Regions from separate parts of the Homo sapiens genome. Here regions 1, 2, 3 and 5 are each linked to region 4. Evidence: fine-mapped expression QTL. A gene starts in region 4. Each other region holds a variant in brackets. All regions are shown on one strand. Distances are between the middles of the regions.

Region 1 (5,106 bases), 210 kb before region 4:
CAACTCACTGAAACTTCCACACATCGTTTTAATTTTTTACAAATTTTAAGTTAATATATATAACCACAAAAGACTAAAGTGTTTTTTATGTTAGTCCCATATTAGTCATTTTGTTACATTTTGTAATATATTCTGCCTCCTCAATGTACAAACCAAGACATTTATGTCAAACACTATTTAATATTAAGTGAGGGGAATGATAACATTTAAGAGAGAAACTCTGTTTTTCTTTTAAATACTATAGTATGTCGTTTCCCAAATTTAACTATTATTTAAATGTGACATGCCCACAAATATTTGCGTGTACTTTTCAATTATTATTCCTCCCTTGTAAAATGAATTTACCATCGTACCAACATAACATCTGTGGCATAAACTGTTTCTGGGAGACCAAAAAGGTAGTGGTTTTCAACCTGCAAAACAACTGCCAATAGTAAAATTTTTACTTTCAACAGTAAAAATTAAGAGTAGACATTTCAAAACTTAAATACATAGGATTTCAACTGAAGAGCTGGGTCTGTAACAAAAATCAATGTATAAACAACAATCCTAAAACAACTGGTTTCTTAAATATGAAAATACCATCCTTTCAAACCTGCTATATATGTATGCATATATATATATATATACACATATAAAAATAATCTCTATAGTACACACATTGTTATTCTTTATAGGGAAAACCAAACTCGGACATATCAGAAGACAAGGTATTCCAAATACCCAACAAGAGAACTCAATTCAGGTCAAAAGGCCTTATGCAAAAATGAGTATTAGAATAACTTTTCATCTCAGACAAAACTCCAACAAGAGTTATACAACTTTTATTTATTGCACATTATCTATTGCTAGAACTATCTGTCATACCAAATTGATAAATCTAAGCATAATAAATTTCTAATGCAAAACATCTCTTTAGAATAAAGAAGTGTGTTACTTGGGCTTTAAAACAGTCAATGTTTCTGGATATGAATCACTTCACGTGATTATAGCCAAAATAGCACTTATCATTCATAACTTAAAATCCATATTTATATGCTTTAGATTTGTCTAGATCAAAGTGATCCAGCAAAAAATTTCACTAATGATCCTAATCTGAACCTTTGGGAACCCGCCTGCTCCTCTCTCCCACTCCTCTAATAGCCCTTATCCTTTCATTCCTTTCTCTCTGCCAGGAAGTTCCGCAGCTTGTATTTGTGACTGCAGTTGTGTTAGCTAAGAACCAGGCCACTGAAAGATCTAACCATTTGGCCACAACTACTTAGAAGTTCTGGTCTAACCCAGAAGGGTACAGTTTACTGGACACCCCCCCGCCCCCCGTCCCCTGCCAAAAAAAAAATCTAAAAAGAAAACTTCTGCTCCTAATAATTTATTTATTTACTTTCTTCACCAAACCATTCTATCTCCTTCATGGTACCATTTTCCCACAACATTCAAATATCCTTAAGGAAGAACATCCTATTTCTCAAGTGTTAGGTGCTAAAGCACTCACATCTATGATAAGATAGAATAATTACAGCCATCCTTTAATCTAAACTACATATGTCTGTATGTGTGCATGTATACATATAGATTTTCACAGAGTAAGAAATCCATAATAAAGCATTAATATATCATATTAGTGTGAAATTTAAACTTTCTTTAAATGAGGCAAAGTTACTATAAAATAACTCATTTTAATAAAAATTTAAAACAAATATATTGTCCTGTATTTAGCATTTACATCTGGATTGCTAGAAAGGTGGCTTGTTAAAAATCTTTATTCACAATTGTTTAAAGTAAAGCCTACCAAACGAAATAAATTATAAACATAAAGAACTGATGTTCCAAAGCCCAGTCTCTTAATTGCTGATCAGAGCTGAAAACAGATCTTTTTTCCCCACTAATTGAATGAGTCTTGTTAAATCTTTTGAAATGAACTTTAGAAAATGCAAGAATACAGCTTAGAACAGGTTCTTTAATTTGGGTCATTTTCTGTTACTTGCAGTAGTGACGGGTGCTTAGCAACGCTGTTCTGGTGGCCCTTTTAAGGGAATGAATACCTGAAATACAGCATTTTAATCTATTTTACAGCATTAATTATCAGGATCACTGTATTTAGACAGTGCCTCCTTTGCCACTTGCCTACGTTATGAAAGAAAGGAGTCCCGTGAAAAATTGAATGTATTATTCCAGATGCCAGAAGATCCTGTGCACCCCTTTAACCAAGTAAAAATATGTAGGAACATAAAAACTAACAGTAAATAGAAGCCACAAAAAGCTTTAGTTTAAATGTTTAGACAAGGATATTACACTGAAAATCAGTGTTCAGACATCAGTAGAAGAGTCCATGTGAAGTCGCTTTTCTTTTTCTAAATCTTCGAGAAGAATTAAATTCTATTATGCCCCACACTAGGCCACTGCTATCTAAGAAACGTGACGCAACAGCCAAAATTTAGTATGATTTTATTTGGTAATTAAAAATCTGCTGAATACTTTAAATATTTTTTTATAAAAGAGGGCTTTTACATAATAACAAGAATATCATTTGAATTATGGCCATATTTACTATAATGTGCTGCAATGATAAACTACTGAGAAGGCAAGAAAACAAGGTAAAATGCAGGGCTACCGAGCAGTTTCTAAGAAATCAAACTGCCATGTCATACTCTGGAAATACGTCCATTCACATCTTATTAATGATCAATACAACAGGTTAAGAAACTAGTCATTAAAAACATTTGGAATGCGCCTTTCTATCTTTTCCTGATGTCAACTGTCATTGTTAAAAGTACAACTCTTTTAACTTTTTCCTCATAATTAAACAACTCATTTTAGATATCATGTCCTGAAGAAGGAAGGTAACGCTCTTATACAGCACTATTCTTCTCTATCTTCACAGCTAATAAGAGATCAAGTGACTCCCTCTTTGTCTAGAATGTACCCTAATTTCAGTCTTTCACAGCCAATTTTTTAAAGCTTTTTAACACTTAGTCTCTGAAGATGAGAGAAAGGAACCAGGTGAACCACCTGCATTCATAT[T/G]TTTGTGAGTTTCAGTCTCTCAGTTAATGTATAATCACCACCTCTTTAAATTAAACATACTTTATAGCGGATCTCAAATTCATCATCACATTGTGTAAATCACAGTATAAAATGGGATAACACCAACATTTCTCAAGTTTTTTAACCTCTTATAGCAGATGGCCTCTGCCTAGAGTGTTTTGAACGCTGCAGTCGCATTTTAATACCTGGGAGTCCGCTGGAAAAAAAAAACAAAAACAAAACAATGTGGGGCACAGACCAGTACATGCTGCACTAAAATATTCGGCTGAGAGGGAGGCTTAGTTAAGTTAGCTGATTTCTTAAATGCCTTCTCTGGGTATTTGCAATCCTTTCTTAAGTACTACTTTAACAATTAGCACACAGAGGTCTTTGGATGGCTCTCTGAAACATTTAAAACCAGAGAACAAAAGGTTTATTTTAAAAATGAAAACCTTGGCTTGTACAACTCCAGACGTGAATCTGCTTTCAATTACTGAAAGTATTTCCACTTTAGTGGAAGGGGATCAAATCTTCAACTACACCATCTTAAGGCACTGAATTTGATTATATTAGGCTTTCAGAAGACAGAATGACTTTGTGACACAGGCACATATAGCTGTATATATCATTTATAAGATATTCCAGAGAGACAGAGACGCCAGCACAGGAGAGGGAGGAAATGTGACTTTCTCATTCCCACAGCTGCCACAGATCTTTGTTTTATTGAACTACACACATCAATGGCAAATGATTTTTACTTCAACAGATACAGCACAAGTTTTTCCAAACCATCTCCAACTATCTTTGCACAGGAGTAGCCTGCATCGAAGCACAACTGCAAAGTTGAATTTCTCTGAGAGACTGCTCTATTAAACCTGACAAAAATCACACTACGTATTTCGCAGGCAAAAGACTGCTCTTTAATGAGCAAGCTTATTTTGTACCTTTTCCCCCATTAAGCAATTAGTATGATGGATTTTAGTTAATGGAACCAAAGGGCTTATTAATTTAAGCTCAATGCCGATTTTTGCACATTTCAGACATAAATTATCCAAAATCACTACTGCTAAGACTAGCTCCCAACGAATTCGTAAAAGTCACCGAATGCAGGCAAAAGGGCAGCTTTGCCTCACGGATTAGGACAGTACACTACTCATAAAAAAAAAATCCATCTAATTAAAAATACCGGGAACAAAAGACTCCATTCTCCCCGCGGCTACCTGCACCACTCCGGGTGACGAAGAGTCATCGAGAAAGTTCAGCCTCCATCTCTTCGAAATCCTTAAATGTGGTCCCTCAGGGGTTAAAAAGCCACCTCATCTCAGATGCGAATGTTGCCTCCGCACCGATTCAAACCCGCGCCGAGCCTCCTCCCATTCCGACACCACAAGGGAGAAGAGCGGAGCCGCCGCCGCCGCCGCCGCCACCACCGCCACCGCCACCGCCGCGGTCCCCGGAGCGAGCGAGCGACCCTGCCGCGCGGGGAGCCTCACCGGGAGCCGCGCTCCGCCAGCCCGCCCCAGGCCGCCGCCGCCGCCGCCGCTCACCCACCTTGCCGCGGCGCGCCCTCGCTGTGGCCGTGAGGAACCGAGCCCAGCGCTGCCAAGTTGCCTGGGTCTGGAGCGTATCGTGTTACAGCGCCTGGCTCCGGGCTCGGGCTGCGCGCGGCGGCCAGACATGATAGGCTGAGGCTCCTCTGTTTACACCCGGCCGCCGAGGGGGCGGTGCGCCGCTTAACCCCTTCGCGCCGGGCCGCCACCGCCGCCTCCCGCCAGCCCCGCGCCCAGCGCCCCGGCTCGGCCGCCGCCTCACCCCCTCGCCTCACCCCCTCGCCCCGCTCCACACACGCGGGCCGGGGCCTGTGAGCAGCCGTGCCCCCAGCGAAGACGGGGGAACTGCACTGAGAACCCGCTCCCGGCACCCTCCGAAGACCCCGCGGGGCGGCATCCTCCCCTCCACACACGCACGCTCGCGAGCCGCCCCGGGCAGCGGCCGTGTTCCTCGGCGGGGCTTCGCCGGCGGCTTTTGATCCCGCCTCAGAGCTGTTCTCCGGCAGCGCTACTTTCCCGTGCTCACAAAAGCATC
Region 2 (5,106 bases), 490 kb before region 4:
TCTCTGGGCTGAAGTGATCCTCCCACCTCTGCATCCTGAGTAGCTAGGACTACAGGTGCATGCCACCACGCCTGGCTAATTTTTTGTATATTTTGTAGAGACAGGGTTTTGTCATGTTGCTCAGGTTGGTCTCAAATTCCTGGGCTCGATCCATCCTCCTGCCTTGGCCTCCCAAAGTGCTGGAATTATAGTAGTGAGCCACGCCGCCTGGCAAAATCCATTATTATTACACCTAACATCCTACTTTTAAGATCTGAAAGTTATTTCTAACTGGAAACATGTGGGACGGAACACAATCCTCAGCTATTTCAGTAGATGAAACGAATGGGGAATGCATGGCTATTTCTTAAAAAGTTATATTAATGAATATTTTCTGTCAAAACTACCTTTTCCAAAACACTTTTTACTGACAACAATAATTAAACAGTAAGTTATTGAGGCTAATAGCCATGTGCAATAGTGAGTGGTGTCAGTAGCACTTGGTACAATGTCAGTCAAGCTGTCAGGTACATTTAGGCACTAAAGTTTTTTTTCAATAAATAAATAAATGAACAAAGACATTATTAGTGATTGAGTTTAAGCTACAGTTTCATTTGACTATTATTAATAAATATATAAGGTATATCCTGAAGAAAAAGTATTTTGTTTGAGTAGATCTTTAAGAAATAACTAGAAAGGCCGGGTGCGGTGGCTCACACCTGTAATCCCAGCACTTTGGGAGGTCAAGGTGGGCGGATCACGAGGTCAGGAGATGGAGACCATCCTGGCCAACATGATGAAACCCTGCCTCTACTAAAAATACAAAAAATTAGCTTGGCTTGGTGGCAGTCGCCTGTAGTCTCAGCTACTCAGGAGTCTGAGGCGGGAGAATGGCGTGAACCCGGGAGGTGGAGCTTGCAGTGAGCCGAGATCGTGCCACTGCACTCCAGCCTGGGCGACAGAGCGAGACTCCGTCTCAAAAAAAAAAAAAGAAAAAAGAAATAACTAGATATCCTACTATAACAATGTCTACTGTAGGACACACACACACACACACACACACACACACACACACACACACACCCCAACACCCACTATATATTCATTCTATAGAATTATTTAAAGATAGCACTGGAATTCTATAATCCGTGGTTTTTTTTGGTTTTGTTTTTGTCTTTTTTTGAGACAGGGTCTTATAGAATTATTTAAAGATAGCACTGGAATTCTATAATCCGTGGGTTTTTTTGGTTTTGTTTTTGTCTTTTTTTGAGACAGGGTCTCACTGTGTCACCCAGGCTGGAGTGCAGTAGTGTGTGATCTCGGCTCACTGCAACCTCTGCCTCCTGGGTTCAAGCGATTCTCCTGCCTCAGCCTCCCAAGTAGCTGGGACTACAGGTGCCCATCACCATGCCCGGCTAATTTTTTTTTGTATTTTTAGTACAGATGGGGTTTCACTATGTTGGCCAGGCTGGTCTTGAACTCCTGACCTCATGATCTGCCCACCTCGGCCTCCCAAAGCGCTGGGATTACAGGAGTGAGCCACCGTGCCCGGACTCTATAACCTATTTTTAAGATTCTCTGGCAAAACATGATCTGAAGATCTTGTATTTACAAGTACTGCCTGTGAGAATATTTTACCTGTGTTTCGGGAATGATGGGACTGTCTTCAGGAGAAGATCTGAAAAAGGTGGATAAAGGTGATGACACAATGATGGGATTTGGCCTCACGAATCCACTCAGATCACAGCTGGGAATGTCATTCTCTTCTTTCTTCATGACTAGGGTATCCATCACATAAAAGACATTCCATGGAATCCACACAGTATGATACTGAGTGAGGAATGGGGATCGTTCAAATACCAAAGTTAGAGAGGCCCCACCATTTGCCACCAAGTCAAACCTAAGAAAGAACAAGGTATGCTTAGTGAATTGTCTGGATCCCACATAACTACCAATACACACCTCCTTAAGTTAATATGCTTTATAAAGAAAATCAACTTTTTCTCCCAACTTTTATATGAAATATTTTCAGATCTATGGGAATATTCCAAGAGTTATACAATAAATACTCTTGTGTCCTATGTGTATTCACCAAGTTCACCAATTTTTTTTTCCAAATTTGCTTTCCATTGACTCTTTTCTCGGAACCATCTGAGCTCAAGTTACAGACATTATAAAATATTACCCCTAAAGATTTCAACATACATCTGCTGAGACAAAGAGCATTCTCCTACAAAACTACAGTATTACCATGCCTTAGAAAATAAAATCAACTTTTGAAGAAGTATGTGAGTATATGACTTTAAATCTCTGCCATATGTACTGTCACAAGTTTGTAGAGTCTAAAAAGTTGCTGCATTTCCATATTTAAAAGGACAGTCAAACATGACAGTGGTACAGGAAGGTCTAGTTTTTATATTTCAAATCCTTCAGAGATAGTGTGATGGGACTAACTCACATTCCGTCCTGGCGGGTAATAGTATATCCATATTCTGGGTAATGGAAAAACGAGACATTTACTCCAATAAGTGGAGTTCCATCAGCAGTCAGTACTTGGCCTCTGATGACAGATGCAAGGCTGTTGGAAAAGCAGAAGAATGAGAATGAACATCTGTCTTTTCAGGCCAACATTATCATGATTTATAGATAATTCAACCTAAGGATAAAATAACACTATGCTATGCAATCCATCGTTATTCACAAAAATCAGACCTGAAATACTCCCAAGACAATGTCCCTTTTAATTCAGTGTAACGCATATTCTCTAAAGGGCTTGTGTTTATCCTGGGTTTTAATTTGTGGCAATCTGTTTTTTGGAGCGTTATCAAGACTAATAATTTAGAGATGAATTTTTAAAATGATAAACT[C/G]TGTGCTTTTTTCATAAGTCATATATATGGTGCTCACATGAAGAAAAGTAGACTTTCCAATTAATTCTGAGGCAATCAGTAAATCTTCAGGGACCAAGAAGTATAAGATTTAAGGGGGCGATAAGGAACATTTGTACAGCAACTTTGAATCAACTGCTGGCTATAACTGCATTAATGCTGTTAAATTACTGCAGACCCAGGAGTTCTGGTGTAAATCATCTTCTTTTGCTCAGTGAGACACAAGACACCTGCTTTCACTTACTGCTTTACTTTCAGGTCATTACTGCTCTGCAAAGCACCAGTCAAACAGCTTATGCAATCTTACTGCCATGCCGTCAGCAGTTCCATTACATTCATTCATAATTTATATTATTTAGTGAGCTCAGCTAAAAAAAAAAAAGTGCACTTCTGTTCTGCCTTTTGGGGTCTTTTCACTGCTTCTTTTGAAACATTTCCAACTGTGCTAACAAAATCAACTAGTTAAATGAAGATTTATTGACTCTTTAATATAATGTCCTGTTATGTCTCAGGTACTGAAATTGACAAAGTATGTGAACTGTGTCAAAAATGCTTGAAATACAAAGTTTGGTGAAGAATCTGCAGAAAGAGGAAAAACTGTATTTAAAAAACAGCACTTTCCTCAGGTTCACAGTCATGAGTATTTCACATAAGTGTATGTAACTGTTGATAACATCATTACAAATCTACATATGGAAAAGAAGCATTAACCTCTTATTGAAAGGACTTTCTCCAGGTATAACATGGGTGCTATCAGATCCTATAAGGAAACTGATTCGATCATAAAAGGATTTGGCAGCTTGCTGAGAAGGCGATTGAAGGCTTTGGCTAATGATGTCCTGAGGATCCGGCAGTCCCCGACAATAGGGCTGATTCTGGCAGGAACTCTGTAGGCAGCAATCGGGATCCATGCAGTCAATGAGTCCATCTGTAGAGAGAAATGTTCCCCAGTAAGAGAATTTTCCTTTTGATGCCATAATGTAGAATCAGTTTTGTTTCTTGACTGTTTTTTTTTTTTTCACATCAAGTGATTTCTCCCGACTATCTGATAGTAATTTCTATGAGGCATACTTTTTGAAACCAGAAGAAATAGAAATACAATAGTCACATGCCACATAATGACAGACCATATATAAAAGAGTGGTCCCATAGATAATAATGCTGTATTTTTACGGTACCTTTTCTAGGTTTAGATACACAAATACCACTGTGTTACAACTGCCTCAGTATTCAGTAGAGTAACATGCTGTACAGATGGGTAGCCTAGGAGTGCAGTAGGCTGTGCCATCTAGATTTGCGTAAGTACATGCCATGATGCTCTACCATGATGAAATTGCCTAACAGCAACTATCTCAGAACATATCCCCATCAGTATGTGACACATAAATCTACTTGCATCTGCCTTCATAGAGAGTAAATATTTGGATTAGAGATGGCTGAAAAGAATCATATAATGTTTGTTCTGAGTAAGAAATAAAAAAATTAGTGATTAGAACAATCTATTGGTAGGAGTATGAAGGAATATGGATTAGTTGTAAGTAAAGCTACTCAAATATTCTATATTTTAGAGAAAATGCACTAGGAGTTAGCACAGTAAGTGTGTATGATAAATAGGAATCTATGTAGGACGAAGCTCTAAAATTTGGGAGAGGGTCAGAAAGTGAAAGTTTATGAAGTGTAGCAAACACAAATCAATATAAAATGGATGAGATGAGCCAACCACCTTTCAATAAAATAGCTCTTCTGGCCGGTGCAGTGGCTCATGCTTGTAATCCCAGCACTCTGGGAGGCTGAGGTGGGCATATCACCTGAGGTCAGGAGTTCGAGACCAGCCTGGCCAACATGGTGAAACCCCATCTCTAAAATTAGCCAGGCGGGGTGACAGGTGCCTGTTGTCCCAGCTACTCAGGAGGCTGAGGCAGGAGAATCACTTGAACCTGGGAGGCAGAGGTTGTAGTGAGCTGAGATCGTACCACTGCACTCCAGCCTGGGCAACAGAGCAAAACTGTCTCAAAAAAAAAAAAAAAAGTTCTTCTAAGGAAGGTTAAGTGTGTTCCAGATAAAATCAGGCATTTCCCAAATTTTAAACAAGAGCCTGGACTCCTAGAATACACTCACTAAAATGGAGGTATTAATTAAAATGTGGTAAATGTAAATCAGCCATAATATTAGAAATAATAAGAAATCCATCATGAAAAATTGACCTATAGTATTGATGACATAAAAGGAATAATGGATGAGA
Region 3 (5,106 bases), 610 kb after region 4:
GCAAGGGAAAATGCTGGGCCTGCTGGTAATCATGCATAAGTATGATAAAGGGTGTTGTGTTGGAAATTTTACATCATTTGAGACAGCTTCAGAGACGTGGCAGAGGAGGTATAAGGAAAAGGATGGCTTGTAAGTAAATAGATGCCTGCAGGAAAGCACTATAACAATCCCTACATCATGAAAGCAGTGATGGGCAATTGTGAGTCAAACCTGGAAGAAACTAAATTTCTTTGACCAATTTTGTTTTACCTTTGCACTTTCCAGTTGCTTCTTTTGTTAGGATGTGCCATGATCCATTATTACAGTGGTTCTCTAACTTGCAATCAGAATCACCTGGAGAGCTTGTTGATGCACAGATTACTGCATTCTATCCCCAGAGTCTCAGGCTCAGTAGGTCTGGAGTAGGGACTGAGAATTGGCATTTCTATCAATTTCCCAGGTGATGCTGCTGTTGGTCCACAGAACTCACTAAAGCCCCTTCATCTTCTTGATGTCCCTGCCTACCTGTTCATTCAACTGTCTTCAGCTTCTCCTTTTGGTGAGTGCTGTCTGTGTACCACCAGGACGTGGCTGATACACTTGGGTACCTTTTGCCAATTATTATGGAGATAAATGTATTCACTGCATCACAAAATAAATGGCAAAGCGACACGGCATTGTAAACGGCACTTGGCACAGTCCTTATCCAGCCCATACGCCCACACACGCAGGGGCTGTGCAGCCCTCAGCCTTACTGGCAGGAGTTCATCTGTTGGGGTGGATCTCCTTGGCCGAGAAGTAGGAACAAAATCAGGAGTGTGTAGTGTCACAGTAGCTAAGGGAAGAGCACCACTCCGAGGGTGGTGGGGATTTATTTATTTATTTTGAGAATAAGTCTTGCTCTTGTCCCCCAGGCTGGAGTACACTGGCGTGATCTCGGCCCACTGCAACCTCTGCCTCCTGGGTTCAAGCGATTCTCCGGCCTCAGCCTCCCAAGTAGCTGGGATCACAGGGGCCTGCCACCATGCCTGGCCAATTTTTGTATTTTTAGTAGAGACGGGGTTTCACTGTGTTGGCCAGGCTGGTCTCAAACTCCTGACCTCAGGTGATCCACCCGCCTCGGCCTCCCAAAGTGCTGGGATTACAGGCGTGAGCCACCACAGCTGGCCAGTGGTGGGGATATTAACCGGACCCTGTCATGGGATGATGGTGACATAGTGCTGCAGGGAGTGGAGCTGCCTTGGCTGCATGTGGATGGTCACAATGAGGTGCTCATTTGTATAACTAACTAGGGTTCAGGGGGCTTGATGCATTCATACAAAAGAAATAATCAGCAAATAAATAAAATATCTCTTAAGTCAATATGCCATGATATGCTTGCTATTTCATTTGGGTTATTATGCCTGGTTACATTTTTGCTGTGCCATTTCATTTCTTAGTCCATCATTTCCCATAGCTTTTTGCTCTTGATATCCAAGCAGAGTCCAGAAGAACTTTCTGCTATGTCAGATTCATGGACTAAACAAGGACAAGTGATGACAGGAATACACTTGAAGTATTCCCAAACAGTCAAAAAAAATGCAAAACAAAATGAATTCTAGGCCACCCTTTTATTTAACAATTTGTCCAGTTAGATCATCTGTGAATCAATTAGGTACAGCATGATTAGAATAAGTTCTGCAGCTTCATGCATGAACAGTCTTTCAATATGACCTTTGGGCTACTACTAAATGTCAGTTATTAATACACGGATGTGTTAATTTAGAAGCTAATTGCCCTTTTTCATATATGAGACCAAAATATGCAGGTGCATCTCTGCTGATTTAAAGGAACTCTGGAATATATATATTTGCAGTTTTTATACATAGTGATTATTAAGGAAAGTAACATTTTAAAAAAACCCACCATCTCAAACTATGATGATCATTACAATTGATGTATTATGTTTTCCAATAAAGTTTCCATTTTTACTACAGAGAAAATGGAGTACAGTAGCAAAAAGAGCAAATCTCTCTGCTCTCATAATGAATTTTTAAGGTTCTAAAGCAGTGAAAAGGTTCAGACAGACTAATGATCTTTGGACTTCAGGATTTCAACCTCTGACTTGGATTTGTTCTGCAGATGGAACATTCTATGTTGGTGAGAGCAGGAACATGGAAAAGTTGACATTAATAATTTTTATACTTCTTAAAAGAAATACTGGGTGATCCCCAAACACAGGGGGGCATTAAGTATTTTTCTATGCAGCCACAACTTCACAACTTTCACGGCCTTATCTGTACATACTTGCTGAAGATTGAATGAATGAGTCCCAGTGCTTACGCTGGAGGAAACCTAATCTGATGCCCACTTATTCGTGATTTAATTACTTATTTGGCCAACATTTTCTGTGTGTCTCTCAATTAGGCACTATGTCAGTCTGTGTGGGATAAGTAGGTTCTATTACCAACAACCAGTTTAAGTAGAATGATAACCATGTCTTGATTTTGAATAAACCAATTTTTAAAAGTTACATAGTAATAAAACTCAATTACTAGGTAAAGGGAATAGGATAAAGTCACCAAGGGCAAGTGTGTCCTGTAGACGGTCTCACATCTTACTTTTCCCCTTCCTCTTTGCCAAGAAAATGCCTGCGTGTGGTCCAAACCCCTTCTACTGATGAACTACAGCTGGGCAGGATATACCCTGTCATTCCTATGCACCCATCCAGCAACTCATCCATCTACCCATTTACTCATTTGTTCACTCAGAAATTATTTATTTCTGTTCTAGGCTCTGAGAATGTACCAATGACTGAAATGAACAAAAATGCATGTCTCACGGGCCATAGATTTTAGTGGGAGTGACGGACAACAACAAAACAATAAATGAGTACAAATGTAACATGTTACAATTGGTAAGTGCTTGCTACAGACAATGTCTGTGTCCCTCTCACATTTGTATGTTGAGATTCTAACCCCTACTGTGATTGTAGGAGGAGGCAGGGCCTTTCGGAGGTAATTAGGTCAGGAGGGTGGAGCCT[T/C]GTCAGTGTTCCACCAAAGTTTTGGCTTTTCCTCCCACAGTGTGAAGATGTTACTGGAAAAACACGGGCTCCTCCAGGGACTATATTTCCAGGTCTCCTTCACGTCTGGATAGGAACATTTGACGAGTTTTGCCACTGTCATGTGCATAGAAGTGACGTGTGTCATTTTCTGGCTTAAGGAGTGGGTATAAATTTCCACCTACTCATTCCCCACCCATGTGCTGAACACACTGGACTCCACAGCCCGGAGTTGCTGGGGGAGCCAAAAGACGTGTTTTGTTTCTTAGTCACCACATGGAGGAAAGTTGCTCGTGAATCAGGAACACTCACATAAATAAGAAATACATTTCTATTTTGATAAGACACTGAAGTTTTTTTTGTTGTTGTTATAGAAACTATAGAATAATTATAACTAATTTTGCAGAGGAAAAAAGGATAGGAGTTGCTGAGGAAGAAGGGGCTTCGCAATCTTGTAGTGTGGTCAGAGAAGGTCTTCATGGGAAGGTGGCCTTCACTTGGAGACCTGAAGGCGGCAGAGAGCAAGGCATATGGGTATCTAGCGGGAAAGCCTTTTTAGAAAGAGGAAACCGAATGTGCAGTGTGTGTAAGTGGAAGTTTCTCGGGAACATCAAGCGAAGCGAAATGGCTGGAGTGGTGTAAACCAGAGGGGTAGGGGCTGAGGTCAGAGAGGTCATGGGGAAGTGTAAAGGATGCAGGGCATGATAGCACTGTAAGTACTTTGGTTTTTAATCGAAGGGTGACGGGAAGCCATCAGGGGCTCTAAACAGAAGAGCAGTGACATGATCCGTTTAGCTAACAGGATTACTTTGGTCGCTGCGTTGAGGATAAACCGAAGAGGGAAAAGCAGAGAAAAGAAGAACTGTTAAGATGCTATTCCAATAATCCAGTAAGACACGATGGGCGCTTGCACTGAGGCGCTGCAGCAGAGGTGGGGAGAAGTGGGTGGAGTGTGGGTACATCAAGAAGGTAGCGCCAAGAGTAACTGCTGATGGATTGGCTGGGCACGTGAGAGGAAGAGAGGAACCTGTCATGACACAGTGATGGTTTGCTTTGTGTGTCAAAGATCAGCTAGAATGTGGTGTCTGTTATTTGGCCAAACACTAGTCTAGAGGTTGTTATGAAGGTATTTTGTGGATGTGACTAACATGTGCAATCATTTGATTTTAAATAAAGCAGATTATTACCCTCTCTAATGTGGGTGGGCTTCTTCCAATCAGCTGAAGGCCTGAAGAGCAAGAAATGGCCATGGGCGGTGGCTCACACCTGTAATCCCAACACTTTGGGAGGCCGAGGCGGGTGGATCACGAGTTCAAGAGATCAAGACCATCCTGGCCAATATGGTGAAACCCTGTCTCTACTAAAAATACAAAATTAGCCGGATGTGGTGGCACGCACCTGTAGTCCCAGCTACTCGGGAGGCTGAGATAGGAGAATCGCCTGAATCTGGGATGTGGAGGTTGTAGTGAGCTGAGATCACATCATTGCACTCCAGCCTGAATGACAGAGCGAAACTGTCTCAAAAAAAACCAAAAAACAAAAACTGAAGTTTCTCTCTCTTTCCTTCCACATGTGTGTACATATATATACATGTATGTTTATGTATATTTATATATGGCATATGTGTATCTATATGTTAGCAGGGAAGAGGGAGCCCACGATGTAATTTCCCCCCAGTTGCCACAAGAATGGCCATGTCTGTTCAATTCCTGACTGTGGCCTCCTCTCTTGATTTGATCTATGTGAGGAAGCCCCGTCTCCCTCCAGAAGCCTATGCTATTACTGTGCTCTGCAACAATTTTTTTAAAGCTCTTGCACCCTTTCTTCCCAGGAAATCCTACAAAGAAAGCTAATATGTAAACATGTAAAAGGAGAAGCATCACCCTAGGTTGAAAGCGGAAGTGGTAGGCCTCTGTCCTATCTGTTCCTCTCCACTCCACCCTCTCAGCCCATAGAAGTTCCCAAGGTAGCTTGGTGGCTCTCTGAGCCCAGCTTGACAACCACTGTCTTATGGAAGAGATCCTCTGACAGGTTTCCTGGGGATCAGCATGGTGGAACCCACACTCCCCACTTAGGTAAGACCCTTG
Region 4 (5,106 bases):
ATACCCACACCATCTATATCCTAGAAAAGGAAGACATTTCTACCTCCTGTGCTCTTTCAGAGCGGGGCCTGCTTCGTGTCCACTGCTTATCTAAAATGTTATTCCTGAGGGGCGGGGGTGGGGGCTCATAGCGAATCTCATTCATAAGCGCTGCTTTGTTTTTCTCTCTGTGTTGCTTCCATGACTTCTTTTTAAAAAATTCTTTCTTCCCCTATGCCTTGGGGCTGCTGGCAGTGGTGGTAAATCCTGCTGATGACCCGGGGTTAGATAATTAGTGGTACCTAGATTGCATTCATTTTATCAATGAGACAACTTCTAGGAGTTTCATTTCAGGCCACTTAGGAAAACACATAGCCAGAAGGTGCCACCCTCTGCCATAGCGGTTGCTGCCTCTGTTTGTTCAACATAAGAGACAAGTGAGCTCTTACGCTATTTCCCGTGACTTGCAGAGCCAGGGAGTGCTACCAGAAAAGGAGTCACTGTTAACCACAGAGTGAGGATCCAGCAGGAGCGCCCGCCAATAAAATGTTACATCGGTATCAAATATAAATCAGAAACAGCTTTCCCTAAATTCCTATATTTATTAACTAACACAAATCTGTAAAATCACTGAAGGCAGTTATTGTTCTACTGGTTTTATTGCTCATCAACGGAAAAGTTAAGAAACCAGCTCAGAGTCCTAAAGCAAGTTGCAGCATTGACACAACAGTAGCCTCTTAATCCCTTTCTCTCTCCTGTGGCTGGCCCTGGAAGAGAGGAAGTTTTCAGTCCTATGGCCGTGTCACATGTCAATATCCTGGGATAACTGGTTCCAAAAGATTCTGGCAGGGACTACGGTCATCACATTAATCTAAAGAATGGAAGTAACATGTGGACTGCCTCAGTTCAAACAGACCACAGTTGCTAAACAGAGACCCAAACTGGGCCACGACGCTGCCTTCATTTAGGAGACGAGACAGAATTTAAAGGAAAGCACTGATTGCTGGAAAAGCAACAGAGAATTAAAACAAAATTTGCAATCTCAATTGGAATTTCTGATTTACTCTTGGGGCCACCTGAGAAGCAATGTGTGACACAAATCAACAACAACAGCAAAGAAATGAAGATCAGATAGATTCCTTTCTACTTGCTCTTTCACTTTTCTAAATGATGCCGGAGGATGCTACATCACATGAGACAGAGCAAAGTTGCTGGAGCCACTCTCTCAAGAGGACTCTGGGGCTGGAAACAATTGTGTCTTGTTCCCTGACACAGTCTTGGGAAACAAAGCCCATGGATTAAGTAAACTCACCCAATGATCCCATCCTGGGCAAAAAGAGAATGATTCCAGCATGCAGACCCTCAGTATTCCCATAGCAAGTGACCTCTGCCCATTAAACAAACAATAGCACAGCCTAACACTCGATTGTTTTGAATGTTTCTGAAGCCTTTGCTTCATTCCCAAAACACTAGAAAGTATCACTGCAGAGGATTAAAAGCATTCATTGATTATGGAATGTAGACATTACAATAAAAAGAGACTCTAGAAATTTAATTTTGTGAAGAAATGCAAGATTCTCATTAATTTAATTAGAACATAAATAACATCAAGCATAGCTAATAAAGTTCAACATGATTTGATTTGCATGAGGCTCTATTAATGTAAGAAGTAAAGTGATATTTGCAAACTCTCAGAAAGCTGGACAGTTGGAATGGTTTCCTAAACAGCTATCTATTAGGCTACACAAAACTTGGTTTTTCTTTCCATATGTTACACATCATGAGAATTACACAAATCTATGACAGGGACAAAAGTGTTCCTGGACCACTGGAGGGAAGAGCCTGGGAACTGAGGATTCCAGGAGACCCGTCTTCCTCTTCATATTCTCCTCTTGTCCATCAGTTTAGGAGCCAGGCTAAAGCTGAGGCATCTTAAAATTTCGGAATGGGAAGGAAAAATAACATTAGCTACCCTGGAGGCTGTGGAAATAAATGCATCTGAATGCAAAGGACAGTGACTTGCAGGCTGCCTGAGATCCAATAAAAGCCTCATCAGAAGTAGCTGTCAATCACTCTAACATGTATGGCTGGTTCCAATAATTCTACCAGTCAAGATAATAAAATTTCAGAACACTAAATCAGCTCACAGCAAACCAGTTAAAAATATTTTGTGATCGCCGTGACCACCATGGTGGTCTAATACCCTGGGTTATATGTTTTAATAGAAAACACAAATGAGGCCGGGCGCGGTGGCTCACGCCTGTAATCCCAGCACTTTGGGAGGCCGAGGCGGGCGGATCACGAGGTCAGGAGATCGAGACCATCCCGGCTAAAATGGTGAAACCCCGTCTCTACTAAAAATACAAAAAATTAGCCGGGCGTGGTGGCGGGCGCCTGTAGTCCCAGCTACTCGGGAGGCTGAGGCAGGAGAATGGCGTGAACCCGGGAGGCGGAGCTTGCAGTGAGCCGAGGTCACGCCACTGCACTCCAGCCTGGGCGACAGAGCGAGATTCCGTCTCAAAAAAAAAAAAAAAAAAAAAAAAAGAAAACACAAATGATTCCATTCTTGGAAGAGTCTATCAGTTAGCACTTTGAGAAGACAGTCAGCCCTGAGTGCCCTGCCTCTCTTTCATTTCCTTTCCTAAGTACTGGAACCTCAGTCACAAAAGAAAACCAATATTTAAGTCAACAGACATACATTTAAAATTATTTCGCTGATGTGACTATGAATTTTACTTATAAAACAAGGACGTGCTGAATAGTTCACAGTATTTTTGGTGTGTTCATTTCAAGCATCTTGAACTGCTCTTTTCCTCAGCTTCCGTGTCCCAACACTGCCCAGATTTGCCCTCTCCATCTTCAACTACTTTTTTCCAGTCTCCTTTTTAGACTTGTCTGCCCTCCCCAGTTTCCAATACCTCGATACTCTCTTCTCATCTTCTCCTCCTTTTCTTCTAGGCTGTCTCATCCGTGCCCTCAATTCCCACCTCTCTACAGATGACTCAGCAACTTACCTTTAGTTTATCCTTAGTTCAGACTTCTCCTCCAAGCTCCAGACCCATCTAAAAGCCTTCATGGCCAGGTGCGATGGCTCATGCCTGTAATCACAGCACTTTGAGAGGCCGAGGTGGGCGGATCACTTGAGGTCAGGAAATCATGACCAGCCTGGCCAACATGGTGAAACCCCGCCTCTACTAAAAATACAAAAATTATCTGGGCGTGGTGGTGCATGCCTGTAATCCCAGCTACTCAGGAGGCTGAGGCAGGGGAATTGCTTGAACCCGGGAGGTGGAAGTCTCAATGCGCCAAGATCACCCAACTGCACTCCAGCCTGAGCGACAAGAGCGAAACTCTGTCTCAAATAAATAAATAAATAAAAGCCTATGTGACATTTACCCTTAAGACATTCTAAACACATCTCCAATACATCTAAAGTTGAATTCATTGTAGCCTCTCTACCACATAGTCGCCCTGGAATGCTTCTAATCTCAGTGAATGACATCACCGCCCAATTATGCAAGTCAGAAACCTAGTGATTATCTTGCTTACCTCTCTCTTAGCCTCCGCTTCTAATACATTATCAACTCTTGTCAATTTTATTTCCATCTCTGATAAGCACTACCCACATACAGGCTACCATCATCTCTCATCTGAACCACCACGGTAGGAAGATCTAGGGTACAGTTCAGAGAAAGCAATCAGGCAGGAAAACCAGTAAGTTTTATTGTTTGAGACAGGGCCTCAGTCTGTCACCCAGGCTGGAGTGCACTGGCGCAATCTCAGCTCAATGCAACCTCGACTTCCCAGGCTCAGGTGATTCTCCCACCTCAGTCTCCCAGGTAGCTGGAACCACAGGCAAGTGCCACCACATCGGGTTAATTTTTGTATTTTTTGTAGAGACGGGTTTTCACCATGTTGCCCAGGCTGGTCTCAAACTCCTGGGCTCAAGCAATTCACCCACCTCAGCCTCCCAAAGGGCTGGGGTTATAAGCATGAGCCACCGTGCTGGGCCACCAAGAAGTTTTAAGAAGGCAAATTGACTGGATTAAGAAAATGTGGCACATATACACCATGGAATACTATGCAGTCATAAAAAAGGATGAGTTCATGTCCTTTGTAGGGATGTGGATGAAGCTGGAAACCATCATTCTCAGCAAACTATTGCAAGGAAAAAAAAACAAACACCGCATGTTCTCACTCATAGGTGGGAACTGAACAATGAGAACACTTGGACACAGGAAGGGGAACATTACACACCGGGGCCTGTCATGGGGTGGGGGAAGTGGGGAGGGATAGCATTAGGAGATATACCTAATGTAAATGACGAGTTATTGGGTGCAGCACACCAACATGGCACATGTATATATATGTAACAAACCTGCACCTTGTGCACATGTATATATATGTAACAAACCTGCACCTTGTGCACATGTACCCTAGAACTTAAAGTAAAATAAAAAAAAAAAAAGAGAGAGGAAAAAAAAAAAGAAGGCAAATTGGTGGAAAAGGCATGTGGCTGACAGTGGAGAAAACAGATGAGAGCAAAACTGAAAAGGGTCCACTGGCTTCAGGAATAAAGAGGTTATTTGTGACCACGGAGAGTCATTTCAGTGGAGAAGCGTTTTTAAAAGAACGGTCAAGCCTTGTGCATTTTACCTGTCTGGAAAAAGAAAGGGAAAAGGAAAGCCGGGCCCAGTGGCTCATGCCTGTAATCCCAGCACTTTGGGAGGCCGAGGCAGGTGGATCACGAGGTCAGGAGTTCAAGACCAGCCTGACCAACATGGGAAAACCCGTCTCTACTAAAAATACAAAAATTAGCTGGGCATGGTGGCACATGCCTGTAGTCCCAGCTACTCAGGAGGCTGAGGCAGGAGGCCTGAACCTGAGAGGCGGAGGTTGCAGTGAGCCAAGATCGCAGCATAGCAACAGAGCAACAGAGTAAGACTCCGCCTCACAAAAAAAAAAAAAAAAAGAAAGAAAAAAGAAAGGGAAAAGGAAGCGACTGAAGATAGGAGAATGTGGAAAAAAATTAATGGAGCCAAGGATCCAGAGGAAGCAGAGGGGAATGCCACACAGGGCCCAGGTAGAGGGGGCACCACTGAACAGAAGAAGGGATGAAGGCATGTC
Region 5 (5,106 bases), 530 kb before region 4:
TGAAAGAAATCCAACAGAGTTTATTGCTGTGATCGCTTTTTTGAAGAAATTACTGCTCTTGAAGAAACAAACACGCACTGGTTTATTTAAGAACAAGCAGCGCAGAGTTACAGAATTATTGACAAAACCAGCCTAAAGTTCTGTCGTTCAGTTTGGCATAAGTCTTGCAGCAGATTACACATCTCATGGTATGATGTGAAGAACGTGCTATCGGGTTAAAAAAAATTAATGCCCTTTTGAATGCCTCTACATAGGAGAATTCTGTATTGTACTATTTCCCCCCCCCCCATTTCAGAGACGGAAAATGAAAATACGACGTGGTTAGCTGATTTGATCTGGCTCTCACGCTATCTCTTGACTGGACCATAACTGGGACTTTTGTGCAGCTGACCCCAGGCCCACTAGCCCTCCTGTAGATCACAGTGCCTGATTTAAAGCTGGGAACTCTAGCTTTATATAGATTGTACCACCTGCAAGCAGCTTGCTGATTCATTCTCCTCTGCCCTTTTTTGACCCTTTTGCTGGTTTATATTTTCTAGCCCCATTCAATCTGAAGCAGAAACTTCACCTTTCTCCTGTAGAAAGCATTTCTGCAACCTCTGACTTTGCTCTTTCATTGGCTTACCACACATTCCATTCCCTGCTGGGCAGGCATTCTATATCACAGGATCCTCGGCACAGGGAGATACAGCCCAGGAAGCTGAAAGTTCAGACTCTCACCTATTAGCCTTTGGTTCTTTGGGAAATAAAAATACAAGTAACCTTTGTAGGTAGTACAGTTAGAATGACAGAGGGTTAAGCTGGGATCCTAGCGGCCCAGCTTAACAGTTTAGCCCTGGAAGTTCTGAATTTGTGCCTTCTAAGGAGTAGCTGAAGCTAAGTGCAGGCACTAACAGGGCTGAAGTGTTTGCACAAGGAAGGCTGCTCCGGTGTCAGGGTCCTCAGAGCTCCTATCTAACCCGGCACCCAACAGTTTCAGAACAGCCTTTCCGTGCAAGCTAAAGCGTGAGGATATTGTGAAAACAGAGAAGTCTGGGTGAGCAGAGGTCATATACGTGACAATTTAACTATTACAAATGAGTGTCCTGTGAGGCTACCACTCACCAGAGTGAGCAGAAGGGGAGATGTGTTCACGCTGACATAGCTGGGGAAGAGCTGCACCCAGGTGGGGACCTGGCCAGGTCCCGGAATAGAACTAGATATGCCTCTGGGCAGATTCTCTGCTTATTTGCAACTGTGTGGCTCAACTGAATGTTGCTTGGCCTTAGTGGTGAACTAGACTGTGGGATCAGGCAGTCAGGCAGGGGCCCGGGTGGGGCTGGGAGGGCTGCGGAGGAAGGTGTCGGGGTGCAGGGGCCCGGCTGAGGCACAGTGGCCAGCACAGAGTCATACTGGAAGGGAGCCTTGGGTGGATCTCCTCACTGGAGAACATGAGGTGCTGAAGAAGGTTTAAAGAAAGCGGGGTTTTAACGAGGAACCTAAGGTGGGGGTGAGAGTGGCTCCCTGACTTGCCAATTTTACAAACCATGAAAAAAATCAGGGATCAACACAGGGTTTTTAAATTAAAAACTACTACCCGTTACTCCCATCGTTTCATAAGGCCATTTAAACATATCAAAGAGAGGCGGGACCTACCTGTAGGGTGAGTTCTTTCAAAAGAACTGTTTTTTTTTTTTTTTTTCGAGACAAGTCTCACTCTGTCGCCCAGACTGGAATGCAGTGGCATGATCTCGGCTCACTGCAACCTCCGCCTCCTGGGTTCAAGCAATCCTCCTCCCTCAGCCTCCTGAGTAGCTAGGATTAGAGGCCCCCGCCACCACGCCCAGGTAATTTTTGTATTTTTTAGTAGATACGGGATTTCACCATATTGGTCAGGCTGGTCTCAAACTCCTGTCCTCAGGTGATCCACCTGCCTCGGCCTCCTAAAGTGTTGAGATTACAGGAGTGAGCCACCACGCCCGGCCAAAAGGACTGTTCTTTATTTATGTATTTATTTATTTTTTGAGACAGAGTCTTGCTCTGTTGCCTAGGCTAGAGTACAGTGGTGCGATCTTGGCTCACTGCAACCTCCGCCTCCCAAGTTCAAGCGATTCTCCTGCCGCAGCCTCCTGAGTAGCTAGGATTACAGGCGCCTGCCACTGTTTCTGTAATTTTTTTGTGTATTTTTAGTAGAGACGGGGTTTCACCATCTTGGCCAGACTGGTCTCAAACTCCTGACCTCGTGATCCTCCCGCCTCGGCCTCCCAAAGTGCTGGGATTACAGGCGTGAGCCACCACGCCCGGCCTAGGACTGCTCTTTAAAAGCAATGAATAAAGCTTTATGATGAAAACATTCTCCACATCATTTTTTTTTTTTTCATTTCAGTGCGGACGAGTAAAAACTTTTTCACAGATTAGCACCTATGTCAACAGAAATGAAAACGAGATGAAGGAAAGACATCAGAAAAATGACCCGGGGACTCTGACTAAGGGAGTGAAAGAAAATGTCTTCAAAGACGACTCTCAGGTACTTCCATAAACATCAGGCTAACTCTTCTTTACCTCCACAAAAGAAGAAAACCAATGCACCCACGAATGTCCAGCTAGCCTCTGAAATACTCTGACTCCAGGTCTTAAAAAGACCTTTCCAACAACTAGATATGCCTCTGGGCGGATTCAGATTCTCTTGCTTATTTGCAACTGTGTGACTCAACTGAACGTTGCTTGGCCTTAGTGGTGAACTAGCCCTGCCCAGCTTATAGATTTGAGAGGTAGTTTTCCTTTATTAGCTTTTTGAATGTACAATGCAATAGGCTCCAGGGAATTTGAATAGAACATCAACTTCATGCCCCCCATTGCATTCCTCTGGCCTTAGCCTCATGGTTTCAAATTCATAACACAGCACATTCCTTCCTGCTCCTGCCTGACCCCTCTTTACAAAGGACTCTCGCTGGAAAGGACAAACT[T/G]CCTCAGGCTCTCCGTGACCTACCGCTCTTCCACTGATGAGATGCCCTTATTTGATGTTTATCTGTTTGTTGGTCTTTAATTTGGATTGCATGTTTGCCTAGTTGCTGTTTTAGCTTTTGTGGTATATTTTTAAATCTCTTTTTAAAGTTTCCTAAGTAGTGGGATTATCGACAAATGCCTCGGAGAATCACAGCCTCAGTCATTCTCAGCTGAGAATGCTATATTCAACCTGACGTGAAGCTCCTAACTTTCTCCTTTTCCTTGGTAATGTCTCTCAGATATTTATCTTTCTATTCCCAGAGCTTCCCTAGACTTTTAAAATGGGTCTATCTGCCTCTTCCCATATTCACTGATACCAAATCAATCTGAAACACCATGATTATAATACCTTTCTACTTAAACATCTTCAGTAGATGCTCATCTGAGAGTAAAATCAAGTGATTTAGACTGTTACCAACCCAATGTCAACAGCCTATTGATGTTGCAAATTTATTCAAGTGGAAACAATTTGCAGTTCTCGAAAACTTTCTTTACAACTTGACAACAGGAGTATTTATCGTCTTTGGTGCTTCCCCATAAAATGGCTTCTTTAACCAAAGGTTATGTTTTTAAAATTATCTTCTGCTTTTGAGAAAAGTACGTGTAAATGAGAGCACAGCTTTAGAGAAGCGCATACACCAGGGCAGAGAAGTCATTCTAACTCTGGAGGTGGGCTCTTTTGCGGAGTGACGTGCTCTTTATCCCTTCTGTGGATTGTCAGTCCAGAATTCAGCCTGACCCTGAACTGGCCCGACTCAAACACGAGACCAGCATATGTCGTTACGTATATACTGGCGGCAATGCCCTCCCCACACCTCTGTCATTTTCACCTAGGGAAGCCGGAGTGAGAGTCACTGAAATGTGACTGCTTTCTCCGGTCAAAACCAAGCCTGTTCTGGGCAGGCAAGACAGCAGCAGATGTTGGTTTGGGTTCATTCTGAAGGCCTCCAGATGGGATAAATGTTCAAGTTTCCTCATGAGTGGGCCTTCCTCGGGTCTTCCTCAGGGCCATCCCAGAGCTAGCCTGCTTTTGAGAGCTGCTTCGTGGGTTACACGGGTTTGCTTTCAGACTTGGATCCCAGTAAGAACTCACATGAAGGACTTAATTAACCCATCTTTCTCCCACTTTCACTATAATGTGTATGTGTGTGATGTGTATATATAGTATACGTAGTGTATATACGTGTGTATGTAATATACACACACACCCACCCAGAAACACACACACACATTTTATACAGAGGGAGAATCTTTTCTTCCATCTAACAGAGTTGCGTAGGCTCAAATTTCCTTCCATAGTTTAACGGCCAACAACAACAAAAACAAACAATCCCCTCCATCTTGTCACCGGTTACCGCAAGACTTTTCCCACATTGCTAATTTGTAACAGCCTCGTATCTGTTGTTGAGGTGAAGTGGAACACAACTACTAACCCCGTCATGACTAAACATGTAGGCATAAATCACTCCTTGATCGTCCTTCCTGAGGAGGGACTTGTGCACAAACAGCGAACCCGGAACGGCGGGCTGATGCGGAATCTTAATGGCAATAATGTGATTTGCAACAGCAACAGCGAAAGATTTTACATGTAAGTCTTCTGAGAAGGAACCTATGGTTTATGTATTTTAACAATTATCATCTCAAAGACAAATCATAATTTGTAGCAAGGTAGTAAGAAATCCTCAAAAATCAGGTTCTGGATAGAAAATGCTTCTATCACCAAGGGAAACAGAGCAGTCGCCTACGCCCACATCATGGCACCACCTGATACTCCCCTGCCTGCTACCTACCTATTATCAAAAATGGCAGGGAAAATGCAAAAGAAGGAAGACAAAAGAAAGTATTATTTTACGTGAGTTTGGTCTTGGTGCTAAGGGGATCCTGATGAGAAAGGGGTGAGAATTGTATGGGGTGGGTGTTGGTAACCCCAATGCGAATGTCTTTGTTGCTGCTGCATTTAATTAGGAGGTCTTGCTGATGGGGCAAATTCTGACCCGTGCTTTGCTCCATAAAACCAGAAAGGGTAGCAGTCTGCAGTCAAGCTGCTATTCTTTTTTTTTTCAAACACCCCCCAGCTAACATGAGTTCAGAGGCATGTAGACAAGGGCAGAGCCTCCCCCA

Alleles and levels. Alleles are on the strand shown, and positions count from the first base shown. SD is a standard deviation of normalised expression in the study named.
As copies of G replace T in region 1, the expression in skeletal muscle of the gene that starts at base 3,068 in region 4 goes down (small effect, 0.18 SD a copy in GTEx).
With allele C in place of G in region 2, the expression in testis of the gene that starts at base 3,068 in region 4 is lower (small effect, 0.28 SD a copy in GTEx).
As copies of C replace T in region 3, the expression in fibroblasts of the gene that starts at base 3,068 in region 4 goes down (moderate effect, 0.41 SD a copy in GTEx).
With allele G in place of T in region 5, the expression in breast of the gene that starts at base 3,068 in region 4 is higher (small effect, 0.30 SD a copy in GTEx).

Evidence for each region. PIP is the estimated chance that this variant, and not a neighbour inherited with it, causes the effect.
Region 1: its variant is fine-mapped to the expression of TENM3 in skeletal muscle (GTEx, PIP 0.95).
Region 2: its variant is fine-mapped to the expression of TENM3 in testis (GTEx, PIP 0.96).
Region 3: its variant is fine-mapped to the expression of TENM3 in fibroblasts (GTEx, PIP above 0.99).
Region 5: its variant is fine-mapped to the expression of TENM3 in breast (GTEx, PIP above 0.99).

What each region holds. Positions count from the first base shown.
Region 1 is chr4:182,448,550-182,453,655 of GRCh38, reverse strand. All of the region lies in intron 3 of TENM3 (teneurin transmembrane protein 3), which reads right to left. Among named protein-coding and RNA genes, the nearest start is that of TENM3, 210 kb to the right of the region's middle. RefSeq lists a silencer at 4,636-4,685. The variant T/G (reference allele first, on the strand shown) is at 3,022.
Region 2 is chr4:182,727,651-182,732,756 of GRCh38, reverse strand. It overlaps TENM3 (teneurin transmembrane protein 3), which reads right to left. Exons shown (of 28, transcript NM_001080477.4): 14 at 3,576-3,792; 15 at 2,438-2,557; 16 at 1,618-1,879. Among named protein-coding and RNA genes, the nearest start is that of DCTD, 190 kb to the left of the region's middle. The variant C/G (reference allele first, on the strand shown) is at 2,847.
Region 3 is chr4:181,635,500-181,640,605 of GRCh38, reverse strand. It overlaps a transcript of TENM3 not described here. Among named protein-coding and RNA genes, the nearest start is that of TENM3-AS2, 190 kb to the left of the region's middle. The variant T/C (reference allele first, on the strand shown) is at 3,002.
Region 4 is chr4:182,241,364-182,246,469 of GRCh38, reverse strand. TENM3 (teneurin transmembrane protein 3) reads right to left here and starts at 3,068. Exons shown (of 28, transcript NM_001080477.4): 1 at 2,994-3,068.
Region 5 is chr4:182,766,681-182,771,786 of GRCh38, reverse strand. The region is part of intron 22 of TENM3 (teneurin transmembrane protein 3); the gene reads right to left. It overlaps LOC105377571 (a long non-coding RNA gene), which reads left to right and starts at 4,397. Exons shown (of 3, transcript XR_939528.3): 1 at 4,397-4,573. The variant T/G (reference allele first, on the strand shown) is at 2,946.